Homo sapiens: one gene and its partners. The protein of the gene in region 1 purifies or fractionates together with the protein of each later gene. This does not show direct contact. Each region holds a gene or a part of one and is shown in the gene's direction. Other genes may lie near its edges.

What was found. The genes of interacting proteins can lie anywhere in the genome.
Region 2: the proteins of STATH (region 1) and CP purify together in Homo sapiens (affinity purification with mass spectrometry, with the first as the bait; one large-scale study listed by BioGRID). This does not show direct contact.
Region 3: the proteins of STATH (region 1) and GC purify together in Homo sapiens (affinity purification with mass spectrometry, with the first as the bait; one large-scale study listed by BioGRID). This does not show direct contact.

What each region holds. Positions count from the first base shown.
Region 1 is NC_000004.12:69,998,269-70,004,220, forward strand, and holds the end of STATH (statherin isoform a precursor), read left to right. Parts: intron 1-154; 5' UTR 155-169; coding exon 170-220; intron 221-1,398; coding exon 1,399-1,419; intron 1,420-1,511; coding exon 1,512-1,541; intron 1,542-2,594; coding exon 2,595-2,681; 3' UTR 2,682-2,714; intron 2,715-3,920; 3' UTR 3,921-4,302; downstream 4,303-5,952. UniProt on the Homo sapiens protein: Salivary protein that stabilizes saliva supersaturated with calcium salts by inhibiting the precipitation of calcium phosphate salts. It also modulates hydroxyapatite crystal formation on the tooth surface.
Region 2 is NC_000003.12:149,173,214-149,177,229, reverse strand, and holds part of CP (ceruloplasmin precursor), read left to right. Parts: intron 1-817; coding exon 818-980; coding exon of another isoform or gene 981-992; intron 993-1,349; coding exon of another isoform or gene 1,350-1,366; exon of another isoform or gene 1,367-3,499; coding exon 3,500-3,516; coding exon of another isoform or gene 3,517-3,520; 3' UTR 3,521-4,016. UniProt on the Homo sapiens protein: Multifunctional blue, copper-binding (6-7 atoms per molecule) glycoprotein. It has ferroxidase activity oxidizing Fe(2+) to Fe(3+) without releasing radical oxygen species. It is involved in iron transport across the cell membrane.
Region 3 is NC_000004.12:71,772,880-71,777,979, reverse strand, and holds part of GC (vitamin D-binding protein isoform 1 precursor), read left to right. Parts: intron 1-5,100. UniProt on the Homo sapiens protein: Involved in vitamin D transport and storage, scavenging of extracellular G-actin, enhancement of the chemotactic activity of C5 alpha for neutrophils in inflammation and macrophage activation.

The sequences.
Region 1 (5,952 bases):
AGTCTCCAAGTTTCATGATGTCAGGCAATGGGTTTTAATTGTCTTTCTATCTGGAGTGTGTCTCCCAGTGCTTTGGAGCGTAGTATAATCAATAAACTTTTGATGGGCGAATGCAAGAAAAAATGTGATACTGAATTTCCACATATGTTTTCAGAGAACCCAGCCAACTATGAAGTTCCTTGTCTTTGCCTTCATCTTGGCTCTCATGGTTTCCATGATTGTAAGTATATCAGGACATTTGAAGAATATGTTCTCAGTACCTATCCCAAGAGTCTCTCTATTCCTTGTGTTCTGGCATATATTGGTGTTTACTTGAATACAGCTTTATATGTTTAAATGTTTCCATATGAACTTTTTTTTGTACTAACCTACATAAGCTATATAAGGATTTAGAATAAATAGTCATTATTCATCTACAGACACTAAAGTATATTTAGCTTAGTGTGAAATAAAAGAAAGTTTTACTGAACTTCTTAAATATGTGGAACTGAGAGCTTCTAAAAGTATCTTTAAACATGTAATGCTCTAGACAATCTGAAGTTAGAAATCTCAGGAATGAACTAGGTGCACTTGAGTGGAATTCAAGTATTAGAAGATGTCAAAGTAGAAATTTTCAAGTCATTCCTTGCAAAAACTAACTTAAAATTAGTATACAATTATTTAGCACACACTTTCTAAAATAAAGCTGCTTATTTTTAACTATAAAACAAAACTTCAGATCTATGACATGTTATGAGTTCCCAGCTTTTATTGTCATTTACTACTATGTATCACTAGGTAAAGCACTTGACTTCTCTGGAGCTCTTTCTTCTACTCTACTTCCTTCTATTTCTCCTGTCCCTTTTCTATGACATTAGTAGGAAACTGGCCATGAAAGAATAAAAATAGTTCAACTTACCTGGTAAATTCTAACAGATATTTCAAAAACTAATTTGATTATAAAATCACAGTATACCACATTATTTGTTATAAAAGGATAGGTGTCTAAAAAATAAAAAATAAAAATGTAAGGAAAACAGAGAAAAACATAATGCTTGTCTCTGTCAGTAAATAAAAGTTATGTGTAAGTAGCCTTTGAGCTGCTGAAAACATATTCTTATGAAAAAATACAAAGTTTCACTTTTCATTCACCAATGATAACCATTTACTCCCTTTTACACACAAAACAAGTATAAATCCAAATAAATTTATATTTGAATATAGCACACTAATTACAGAAAAGCATACTCTTAACTCATTTTAAAGATGTCATGAAGCAAAAATAACTAATTTAGTGTCTATCGATGATTTGCCTACATCCTGTTTACTCACAACTGTAGCTGCTGAGTTCATTTTTGTACTCAATCTGGAATTATAACATTAAGATACTAACTATTGTCTAATTTTCTGTTTTCTAAGGGAGCTGATTCATCTGAAGAGGTGAGTCATTTTCATTCACTGGAAAACTTGTTTTCAGTTTTGTCCTCCCTACATTTGTATTGAATTATTAAACTTTTCTTCATTTTTCACAGAAATTTTTGCGTAGAATTGGAAGATTCGGTGTAAGTGTTCTCTGATAATGCTGTGTAGTCCAAATAAATTGTGTTCTCTGATTACTTATTCTTCTAGAAGAACCAATACTTATTTCTCAAATATGTGTAGTAGTTGCAAAAGTGTGCTTTGTTTTCCTCTATTTATGATACACAGGTAACAGTCACAAATGTATTGTGTCCTAACAACATTTAAGTTGAAACTCATAGTGCCAACCTGAAGAAACCAGTTACTCCCTGAGCCCTCAAGTATCATCTCCTAAGTAATCACTTTGACCTAAAAAATAGTTGAAATTCTAATTCTGTTAATTATAATATATGCCTCATGGAGCATAAAGGCTGATAATTACACATAAAATATGGTAAGTTTGCACCTTCTGATTTTTTTTGACGGTGATAAACTCATTAAATTAAACAGGTCATGATAAATGAGATAGCAAATTTCATTTATTTAACATTTTTCTTAATGTATGTATCTTGATGTCCCAGTATGTTGACATATAATGTCAATGTGATAGGGTTGCAAAAGATCCCCTAACTAATATAGTGAATACATGGATTAAAATAACACCAAATAAAAAGATACTCTAAAAGGGATGATGGTTATTTGTGTTAACAGAAGGAAGAAGTATTAAGGAATGTAGGAATCGTAAGAGACAGTAAGCTCATTAAAAGAGTGACTTGAAGAAACACCACATAAGCTGAATTTAGTAAATGTCTCCTTCCCATAATACTCAAAGGTGGGCAAAATGGTTGCTGGGAGGTAGTATTTTGAAGAAAATTTAAAACCTCTTTGGAGTGATAGCCTATAATCGGTGTTCCTGCATGTGAAATAAAACCACAAAACTGTGAACATGCAGTACAAAGGTAAACACTCAATCATTTTTACCTGCTTTTAAAATGTGTTTATAACCAAAAAGAAAAATCTAATTGAAAGTTTGGAAAAAAATCTTATAAGTAATATGTAAGTTCCTAAAACTTTAACAATCTAAGCTTCTAATAAAAACGCTTGCACTGTCATTATCTCAATTTTCTGCAATTTTCTTTCTCCTTGTGTGTATACAGTATGGGTATGGCCCTTATCAGCCAGTTCCAGAACAACCACTATACCCACAACCATACCAACCACAATACCAACAATATACCTTTTAATATCATCAGTAACTGCAGGACATGATTATTGAGGTAAGATGGGTTTAGTGACATTTTTTTTACTTTCTGTATCAGTGCTGACAGTTAAAAGAAGAAAAACAAAAACAAGACATTAAACCAACAGCAGTTCCAGTATAAGAAAGCAGCCAGCTGTATAGCTCCTTGAAATGTATTAATTTATATAAATGCTTCTGAGATAGTCTCTGTCCTGCTATGGTTAGAAGGCAGTGTTATAGAGTGGGGGACACCAGGGTTTGTATGCTGGCCCTGACAACTACTAGTTTCATGACTTTGAACTACTCCTAATGCTCCTGAACCTCAGTTTTCTCGTCAAAAAATTGTGTATTATGATAACACTTAAATGTGCTTTTTAGAATTGGTGACACTTTTGAAAGACATATCACATAAAATCTCTTGATCAGAAAGGTTTGTAGTTATAACTGCAGGGCTTCCCTGCCACTAAATCTGTACCTAGGTGTTGCTTAAAGTTTTCACTCCCAAAATGCAATCTTTGGAGAAGCTTCCATCTGGGAACCATCTGGGAACTTGTGAGAAATTTGCATTTTGTACCCTAAGTAACTCTACTGAGCAATTACTATAGAAATTATTAACATAATGCTAACAAGAAAATATGGAAATGTTATCAATTTCTTTTTAGAAAGTCAGTTTTACCTATCTCTACACAACATTAAATGTTCTAAATTCTATGAAAAAATAATATTTCAAAACAAAATAGAGCAAACTCTTGGAGATAAGGGAGGATTGTTCTACAAAGTTAAAATAGTCCAAAGGATTTCAATTATTTTTCAGTGCATTTGGGAGATTATATTCCAATTCAATTCTCTATTGCCATTAGTGATACAGGGAAGAGCCTGAACTTGATCCCCTAGGTTTTAGGTAATAGCTGATGACATTTAATCAAGAAAAGATGTATTGAAATATTATTTAGAGGAAATGCATATAAATGAAATGTGTAGGCTATATTTAAGTAGAAGAATAAAATAGTATGATGATTGAAAAATAATTTAAATTGTAGATGCTGAATGATAATTTTTATTTATTCAGGAACCAATTTAATAATTGTTTAATTGTCTACTCTGTGTCAAATATTATTTTGGGCCCTGCATTTTATAAACTATAATTGTATATAATATCTACTCTGTACCAGGCCAGAATATAAATGTGTTTACAGGGGTAAAAATTTTACAGATAATCTGTTATTTTTTTTTTTCTGTGCAGGCTTGATTGGCAAATACGACTTCTACATCCATATTCTCATCTTTCATACCATATCACACTACTACCACTTTTTGAAGAATCATCAAAGAGCAATGCAAATGAAAAACACTATAATTTACTGTATACTCTTTGTTTCAGGATACTTGCCTTTTCAATTGTCACTTGATGATATAATTGCAATTTAAACTGTTAAGCTGTGTTCAGTACTGTTTCTGAATAATAGAAATCACTTCTCTAAAAGCAATAAATTTCAAGCACATTTTTACATGTATGCTCCTTATTTTTCTCTTTTCTATTTATAGGAATAATGATTTCTTTCATCATCTTCTTTCCCAGTTTGACTAGCACAGATTGAAGCCCATAATGTCAGAGGTCCTTATTTATAATTTAGTCTGTCATATTTTATATGTTACAAACATGGTACTCAAACTCACTTATTATTAGAGCTATTTATGCCAAGATTTGATTTGCCCATGGTTTCCTTTGCCACACCACAGTTGCTAAGCCTCCAAAGCACTCACATTTTTTATCTCAGTCCCTGTAGGTCAGAAGATAACCACCATGTCACTCTACAGCAGTATGTAGGCACTCTGCATGTAAACCATCTAATGCCCTCCATTAGTTTTTCAGCAATGACTTTTATTCAAGAAATATTTATTGAATGACCCCAGCTGTCAGGTCCTCTTCTAGATGCTGCAGACAAAGAGAGACAAAAGTCCTGTCTTTGGAGAGTTTACATTGTAGTTGGGAGATGCAGATACAAAGTAAATAAATAGTACATATCTTAGGCAATGATAAGTGTGCTAAAGAAGTATAAGCATGTCTAGGGCACAGAAACAAATTTAAACAGGATAGTCAACAAGAGACTCTCTGACATAGTGACATTTTATGAAAGATATGAACTAAGCATGAGAGCGAATATGGAGAAATAAATTTTCCAGCAGAAAATAGCAAATGCAAATTTATTGTGATAGAAACATGTTTGTTTCATTAGGGACAAATTCAAGGAGACCAATATGGACAGAGAAGGCAAGTGGATCAAAATAAATTACGTCACAGCATAAGGGATACGCAGGTAACTAAAGCTTTGTGGCCCATGTTAAGTCTTTGATTTGAGATGGATGACATTGGAGAAAGACATAATCTTATTTATATTTTGGAATGGAATCAAGGGTTGAATCATAGATATCCACACTTGGGCCTTACAGAAATCTGTGGGTCCTTCCTATTTTTATGTCCTTTTATTCTATGTGTTCCTTTTAAAATTTATTTTATTTTCCTCTAAGCCAGTACTTCATATTTTTCATTCACTATATACTTGCAATAACTCAAACAATTCCAGTGAACTTCTGGGTTTGGGTAACTCTACTTGCTAATATCTCAATCCTATAAATCCCTAAATTTTATATCATGTTTCTTTATCAAAACCTAGATATATAGAAAAAATGTGATTTTTTTGTTTTCTAAATTTGGAGTACAACATTGCTCACCAAGTTTTTTCCACGTATTTGATGCAATACCTCTCTCATTAACCTACAATAAATTGCCCCAATATTTGTTTTCTGAAGGAACCAACTCATCTCACTCAGTAGTCAATTTCAAAATAATAATATTGATAATAATAATAACAACAACATACGTATTTGAAAGGAAAATTGAATTCATTAGGCATAAGTGTCTTAAACTTCTTACTCTCACTTTTAATAAATTAATCTATATCTGATCAGATTTCTAATTCTCAAAGTCTTAAAGGTGAAGATGACTGTCATGTTTTCCAAAGATATTTTTTCATTATTCTTTGTTTTGCATTTTCTCCTTTATTCTCAGAGAAATTTTTGAAACTAAGATGTTCTTTCAAATGAATACTATCATGCTAAAAATAATAATAAAACAACCTAATATTTACCTTTAAATAATGTATATTTTAAATTTCTCATATATATGAAATATATAAATATATAAATCATATTTCATATTATATATTAATATATGAAATATATATTTTCATTTAATTCACTTTCAACTATTATTA
Region 2 (4,016 bases), on another chromosome or scaffold:
GACCACAACAAGACTTTATTATAACCCTTGCCCTGCCTGTTCTAAGTTCTGTATCTTAAATGGCCCATGGTGAGCAAGATCAGTTAGGTGACAAGCAACTGGTCTGTACATCTCAATCTTACTTCTATTCTTTCTCAGTACTGATTTCAGCAGAAGCCAGTGGCCCTCCTGGAAATGCTTTTTCCTTATGCTTTGGGCTAATTTAGAAAAGGCAGAAGTTATCAAAAAGCATACTGCAGAAAGCCTGTTTTGTTACCTGCATTTTGTTTTACATAGATATATTGTATTCTTAGTGGGCTTTCAATTCTATCCTTGCAGAAATAGACTATTGTCACCCAACTACTGTTTCCAGCCGAGACTCCCTGAAGTGCCTCTGGTTTTTGTCGTTTTCATCAGCCTCCTTTTCTGCTTCCTTTATTATTTACCTTGACTTAAAGCTTCAGACAAGCTAGGACAGATTCAGGCAAAAGTGAGGCTAGGGCTGAAATGGGGCCACAGCTGAGTTCCTTTTGTGTAGCTTAAGTGCTATGACAAACAGGCAAACCAGAATCAAGGTACAGGAGGTTTGTAGGTAGTCCTGATTGATGAATTCATTCTCATCACATCTTTCTTTCACACCCACTTGATGTGGATACCAAAGACTTATTAGGAATACAAAAACCACATTTTACCATTTGTATTAAACACAGAAACGAGCTCGATTTTTTAAAAACAGATTTATCCATTTTTTCAATATCCCTGAGCTGAACATTAACAAATGACATGAGTGAACTCTCATATACAATATTATACATTATTTGTCATTTTTCTAATTAAGCACAGGGGAGTTTATAGTTCTGATGTCTTTGACATTTTCCCTGGAACATACCAAACCCTAGAAATGTTTCCAAGAACACCTGGAATTTGGTTACTCCACTGCCATGTGACCGACCACATTCATGCTGGAATGGAAACCACTTACACCGTTCTACAAAATGAAGGTGAATATCCAGGTAGTAATTCTAGAAGCCATATATAAAAGATATAACTAAAGGAACTACTTTGCCTAAATACTTCCCCCAATATGATGCATCAATATGAAGCATTTGTGAATCTGCTGCCCTGATTTCTTCCTTCTCTACCTCCAAACAGGATTTTTTTCCTGCTAAATGGTGAGGGATACTGCTCATTTCCTGACAGCCAGTACTTGTAACAGCACCAGTCATTTCTAAGTTAATACAAATGTGTAATTATACTTAAAGCTGATATAAGGGAGTAGTCATGTTATTTACCAAGAAACAAACCATTATTTACATAAGACACATTTAGAATCTAATTTCTTTCTTAACAAAAAACAATTTTTTTTCTAGGTGGCACCTCCATGTAAGAGAAGCCCAAGACAACCCCAAATAATATAATTTCAAATAGGCAGTGTCTTTTCTGTGCTTCCAAGGGGAAGGAGGAACCTTACCGATAATTGTTTGTGAAAGATCCAGGGAAGAAACAAAATTTAAATGCACTGCTCCCCAACCCCTGCAATAACCCTCCCCATGTGTAGGTACACACACACACACACACACACACACTTAAAATGGAGAAAAATGAACAGTTTTTTTGGTAAGATTCCTGCACTGTGGCTGCAGGCTTTGGTCTTTCCTGGGTCTTTCGAGTTGAGGATTGTTGTAATTAGAAATGGTAAATTCAAAGGGAGGAAATTATGTAAAGAAAACCAATCTATGTCTTTCCTCCCTAAAATGGGGAAAAAGGGAACATACAAATGAAGAAAATATAAATGTAAATATATTTGAAGATTTAAAAAGCCCTGAAAGGTTAACCTTTAGTGCAAATGGAAAGTTTTAATTTCTGCTCCTGGGTCTTACACAAACAACTTACATCATGAAAAACTATTTCCATTAATGCCCTTTTTATTAGAGCAGTCACTGATAACACTAGAATATCAAAGACTCTAACAGACAAGCCACTAAATTTAACGCCAATAACTTGAACAAAGTGAAGAGAGCCAAATATGAGAAAGAAAACTTTAGTCTTTAAATAACACTTGCAACCATGTGGTTACATGTGGTTGCATGTAAACCACACAAAAGGATGGTCTTGCTCAAAAAAATAATGGTGAGTAAGTAACATGGAGGCATTTGGGGAATTCATGTGTGCAAATGCCTGGCATGCAGAGTATGGCACTACAGGGTAACCCTACACACACAGCCACAGAGAAGATTCCTCCTGTGTAACAACCGTGAAAGAAGAGGGAGATTACTGCTTGGTTAAGAAAGGCGAGATAGTTTTTAAAGCTATAGTAAAAATTACAGAACAAATAGCAAATATGAAGTAAAAATCAACACTAGATAAAAAATTAAAGAGAAATTTGACTTTTGCAAAGAGAAAAGGTATTGCATGAGACTGAAAGCAGCAGACTGAATAAAAAAAGATAGTTTGAACTATCTTTGGCCCATAAAATCAGTGGCCATGTTTATCAGTCTGAATCATCTTTAAATAAGTCCAATAAAGCTTTGAGCAAGTTTACATTAATTATGAGTCTTAGAAAAGCCTGCTTAGCTTTAAATTTCTTACAGGCAGGGACTATATATTCTGTATTTCTAGCTAAGTACCCAAATCCAATACAATAGTTTGCTTACTGAATGTATAACAACATATTAATTCAATGAAGAGAAACTTTTGAAACTTTTTTGACATAATTTCAGATTCCCATATACCTTTCACCCAGATTCCCCAAATATTAATGATGTGCGTAGCCACATTGGCTTTCTCATTCTTTTCCCTATCTCCCTCTCATGCTCACCCTCTATATGTACACACACAGACGTGTATAGATACACATACAACTATCTTTCCTAAAAACAAGAATATTCTTGTACATGACCACAATACAATGATCGAAATTAGAAAAGCAACAATGATTTAAAAACTAGAGATCTTCAAATTTCGCTAATAATCCTAATCATGTTCTTTACAGAAAAAGAAAATCCCGGATCATGTACTGCATTGTTGCCATGTCTTTTAAGTCTCCTTTACTCTGAATAATTCCTTAATAAAGGGCACTTTGTAGAATGTCCTTCAATTTGAGTTTGTCTAATGTTTCCTTATGATTAGATTTAGGTTATGCACTTTTGGCAAGACTATCATGGCATGATGTTGTGTTTTTCTTAGTACACCATATCAGGAGGCACAAGATATTGATCAGTTCTATTACTGGTTATGTTAACTTCAAGCTTTGGTTAAGATGGTGTCTGCCAGGTGTCTCCATTGTAAAGTTATTCATTTTCCCTTTACAATTAATAAAGATCTTGTAGGGAAGAAAGTAATCTTTCTTTAAATAAAGCAGCAATAGAATGAGAGATTTTTAAACATATAAAAAGCAGAAAAATATAAATGAATCAGGAGTAAAGTAACATTAAAAATTGGAATACATTTAAAGAACCATCTACTAATTTCTAACCATATATTATTTTTAATAATGGTCTTAAAATTTCTTTTTCTATAGACACCAAATCTGGCTGAATGAAATAAATTGGTGATAAGTGGAAAAAAGAGAAAAACCAATGATTCATAACAATGTATGTGAAAGTGTAAAATAGAATGTTACTTTGGAATGACTATAAACATTAAAAGAAGACTGGAAGCATACAACTTTGTACATTTGTGGGGGAAAACTATTAATTTTTTGCAAATGGAAAGATCAACAGACTATATAATGATACATGACTGACACTTGTACACTAGGTAATAAAACTGATTCATACAGTCTAATGATATCACCGCTGTTAGGGTTTTATAAAACTGCATTTAAAAAAAGATCTATGACCAGATATTCTCCTGGGTGCTCCTCAAAGGAACACTATTAAGGTTCATTGAAATGTTTTCAATCATTGCCTTCCCATTGATCCTTCTAACATGCTGTTGACATCACACCTAATATTCAGAGGGAATGGGCAAGGTATGAGGGAAGGAAATAAAAAATAAAATAAATAAAATAGAATGACACAAATTTGAGTTTTGTG
Region 3 (5,100 bases), 1.8 Mb from region 1:
TATACATGTTCCATGGTGGTTTGCTGCACCCATCAACCCACCATCTACAGTAGGTGTTTCTCCTAATGCTATTCCTCCCCTAGCCCTCAACCCCCGACAGGCCCCAGTGTGTGATGTTCCCCTCCCTGTGTCCATGTGTTCTCACTGTTCGACTCCCATTTATGAGTGAAAATATTTTTATATGGAAATAACTGTGATTTTTTTATCTATTAAAAAATACAATAGCAAGAGCACAGTCTTAGAATAACCATTTCAGTCTTCAAATTTTACTACACGAAAGTAAATTTGTTATTTTGATATTATCAGTTCTGCTGCAAATGTTAGGTAATAATTGGTTTTAAAATGAAAATACTTTTATTTGACAATTGCATACTAGATTTTAAAAAATATAAATAACAAAATACATGGTTGGATTGTTGACTAGGCTAACATTGAAGTGAGTGTTCCTTTTAAGTTTTCTTAGCAAATATATCTAAGGAATTATATCCTGGTGGCAATTGGAATGTAATATCTAGTATATATCCTATAGAAAACATTGGCATTCCATTTTCCATCTACATGATACTGCAAAGCTCATTATTAATTTATTTGTTTAAAAGGCTCTCTTTAGCCTTACTAAGACAAATGAAGTGCTATAAAAGCACTTAAAGCAATGTATATCACAATGGTTAACACAAAATAGCATTGAGTACTTGATAGTGAAATTTCCCATTTAAATTACAGTTCTTACAATTGTCCAATAATAAGCCTTCAGTTTCTTACTGGGATTTAATAAGAAAATTAGAAAATTATATTCCATTCATGAAAAAAAAATTCTTGCTAACACATCACTATAGCAGACAAGCACCATAAAACTCTTTTGGCCATACTAAAAATTAATATATAAATATCTACTTTTTATAATTTTAAAAAGATAAATTACTAATCTTTGAAATAGAAATTTTCCTATACAAGATAATGCAATCTGTTGGACTTCAAATGCATTTAAATGGCTCGGGGATCTGTTTGACAAAAACATGTGTGATGATAGAGACATAAATAATGATACACATCCAATATATCCTCTCCATTAGATTGCATAATTTGATTTCGGTTTATACAGTATAACTTCAGTAGTCATTAAGACGTGTATTTTGTTAGGAAACAGTGAAAGAAAATCACCCATGTACAGTGTTTTCTGGTTTAAAATGTACTGTTTTTTAATTGGCAAATTATAATTATATACATTTCTGGGGCACAATGGAATAGTTTGATATCTATATATAATGGGGAATGATAAAATCATCAATGAACTCCTCTACCATCTCACTGCTTATCATTTTTTCTGAGGCATTTGAAATTTACTCAAGTTATTTTGAAATATAAAATACATGATTAACTATAGTCACCCTGACGCAAAATAGATCTCAAAACATTCCTCCTGTCTAACTGAAATTTTGCACTATTTTCCCAGCAGCTCCTCATTCCCTCCCTCCTCTTCTCCCTGCAGCCTCTAGTAGCCATCATTTTACTCTTCTGTGAGTTCAACTTTTTCAGATTCCATATATGATATAATGCAGTATTTTTCTTTCTGTACCTGGCTTATTTTACTTAACATAATGTTCTCCAGGGTCATCCATGTTGTCACAAATGACAGAATTCCCCTCCTTCTCTTTTTAAGGCTGAATAGTATTCAACTGTGTAAATACATCACATTTTCTTTATCCATTAATCTGTTGATGGACACTTAGGTTGTTTCAGCATCTCGGTAGCTGTGAATAATGCTACAGTAAACATGGGAGGGCAGACATCCCTTCAACCTGTTAATTTATATTTCTTTGGATATATACCCAGAAGTGGTATTGTTAAATCATATGGTAGTTCTATTTTTAGTTTCTTGAGAAACATCCATACTGTTTTCCATAATGGCTGTACTAATGTATATTTCCACCAACAGTGGAAAAGAGTTCCCTTTTCTCCACATTTTTGCCAATGCTTATCTTTCAATCTTTCTGGCAATAGCCATTCTAACAGGTGTGAGGTGATATCTCATTGTGGTTTTAATTTGCATCTCCTTAATGATTCCTGATGCTGAACATTTTTTATAAACCTGTTGGCCATTTGTATGTTTTCTTCTGAGAAATGTCTGTTTGGGTTCTTTGCTAATGTTTTAAATCGGTTATTGGTTTTCTTGTTATTGAGTTGTTTGAGTTCCTTACATATTTTGTATATTAACCTGTTATCAGATATGTGGTTTGCAAATATTTTCTCCCAGTCTGTGGGTTGTCTCTTCACTTTGTTAATTTTTCTTTTGCTGTGCAGTAGCCTTTTAGTATGATGCAATCCCATTTGTCTATTTTTTGCTTTTGTTGCCTGTAATTTCAGCGTCATGTCCAAAAAACTCATTGCCTAGACCAACATCATGGAGCTTTTCCCCTATGTTTTCTTGTATTAGTTTAACAGCTTCAGGTCTTACATTTAAGCCTTTAATCCATTTTGAGTTGATATTTTCTCAAGTTTTAATTGAGATAGATCATACATGGCTAGCCAGGGAGGCAGAATCACCACCACTTACTGTTTATATCACCTTATCAAAGGAGTGCCATGTGGAACTATGACTGTGCCAGCCCTTGTTGAATGATACTTTCTTCAGATTTTATAATACTTGCTTAATGAAGTGACTTTTATGGGAATGTCCAGAATTGTGCCAGGCATCCAGGACCTAAAAATTTAGACATGATCTTTGCCCTGAAAGAACCTTCATGGAAAATAAAGACAATTTTGCTTAAAGGCAATATTAGTATATGCTGCCTTTATAAGATCTATTAGCAAACGTCTAGTGAGTATTACTTCAAGTCTCTGTCACTACTAAGACCAAAGCGCCTGAGTCTTTCAACCAATCTGCTCACCTTTCTATTTTCCTGTGCCAAACCCTGCAAACTTTTTCATTTAAAAAAAAAAAAAAAAAGGGCCGGGGAAGAAAATGAAGAATAAGAATGACTTTTTTCCAGGACTGATAGTCAAAGATAAAGATTTTTAAACAGGCATGAATAATAATGAATCTTTCGATACCATAAAAAGAATATCACTAAATTTCAATAGAGTAATTCTCTAACTCATGGACAAAATGTACTCAAAAAGTTATATGTTATTTAGAAGTTAAAGTACAATTTTTCATAGAAATAATTTAAATATGAGATGAAGTTCTTAAAATGATGCATAAAAATAGGTAGTAAACATGGGATGTAAACTGTGATAACCACAAACCTCATAAAATTTTTGTGAAGATTAAAGCAAGTAATACATGTCAAATATTTAGAACAGTACCACCAAATTGTTGGCACTCAAATTTTAATTGTTATCATGATATTATTATTATTTATATTTATATTGCTGTAGAATCTAAGTGCTTCAATGTGTTCTAAGCGTCCAAATTAAATGCAGGGGATATCACCTTTACCCATCCCAAAAGTGGAAGAGGCAAACCTCCCCCTCTATCTTTACCCCTACAAAAGCAATTACAGATGAGGAGGTAACCAACCCACAAAAGGAAAGAGAGGTGGGATGAAATGCATGGAGAAAAAATGCTTCCTCTGGAACTTTGGTAAGTGTCACAAAGGACAGGCTACCACCCGAGGTGAACCCAAGGACATTAGTTTGAGTGAGTCTGTGATGCTGTCTCCTATTGCAGTTGCAGTTTCTGAGTAATTAACCCATTGACTATATATCTTTTGCTGTTTTCGTTTGTGTTTGAATTTTCAAAGTCTGAAAGGACGCTCAATTTGTTGCACTGATATCATCCTAAGAGGTACAGTTAACTTCTAGATTAGTTTATCTATAGATGTCATGTGGGTCTCTGGGTTTAGTATTAAAAGGGTTGAATTTCTTTTCATTGACTCAAGCTCAAACTTTTTCATTGGCAATATTTTTAGTGATACAGAAATCTCTTATAACCAGATCAGCTTCCTAAACCAGCTCAATAATGTTTACTATTTAAGTCAATTCACTACTGTGAAATGAACAATATCATGCCTGACTAGTTTGAATAAACACTGCAAACCATATTCTTAAAAGGTAAATTTATTTAAAAAAATACTAACAAATATACTGAGCTTTTCTGACATGGATGAGTCTGTCAGTACAGAATAGAAATAAAAATGCCAAAGAAATGAAATTGTGAAAATATAAAATGCCCAACAGAGCTGTTAAAGCCCATGATTCTCCAGAACACAATAGGAAAACAGCAACTTGAGATAGTTCCTAGCATCCTGTACGAGCACTTATTTATGTCAATGATATTTAGGATCCATTAATGTACTTGGTATACGAATAACTGTTCTAGGGAGCCAAATTAGGTTTTAGTGAAAGACTAGTAATAGTGAAGGCATCCAAATACCTACTTTAATAAACTTTGTAACAAAGCAGTATCTTATTAGCTATCCCCATTACAACGAAAGTTACATGAGGGCAAGGATGTGTCTATTTTGGGTTCCATTGTAAGTTCAAATTCAATATTGAACCCAATGCCTGGCACAAAGTAAGCCTCAAAAAATATCTGTTACATGTATGAATGAATATTGTCAACTCTGTTGGCAGAGGTAAGGTGCCTGAAGCAGCAAAGATTTCCTGAAAATAAATCACACTGGCTTTCAAAAGTTCAGAATTAAACAAGACTTACCAGAATGTTTCACAATATAGATAAAAAGTGAAACATGCTATTGCAGAAAGCAAAAATTCTGTTAGTGAAATTTGTAAACACTTAGTACTGTGGGGGGTCACTTCATGTGAAAGTGATTTCATCAGAGTCACTAAGATTATGCCAATATTTACTAGGGCCATATCAAAGTCCAAATCACCTTCTTTATAACCGAATGGTACATTTGAAAACAGAGCGTATAATTTTACAGTTCATTTGAGACAGGAATTAACTATATGAATTGGAGTGAGCTCAACTGGTTTTACACCAAAAACATTTATTAAGCAGTATTCCATGGAATGGGGAATCAATTAGTAATAATCACATTGCAAATTAACTTTAGTATTTATTTGCTGTATTTGAAAATTGAGACAATGATTGACATACATTGGCTTTGTCTTGTAAGCTAGATATCTTCTCTTTGG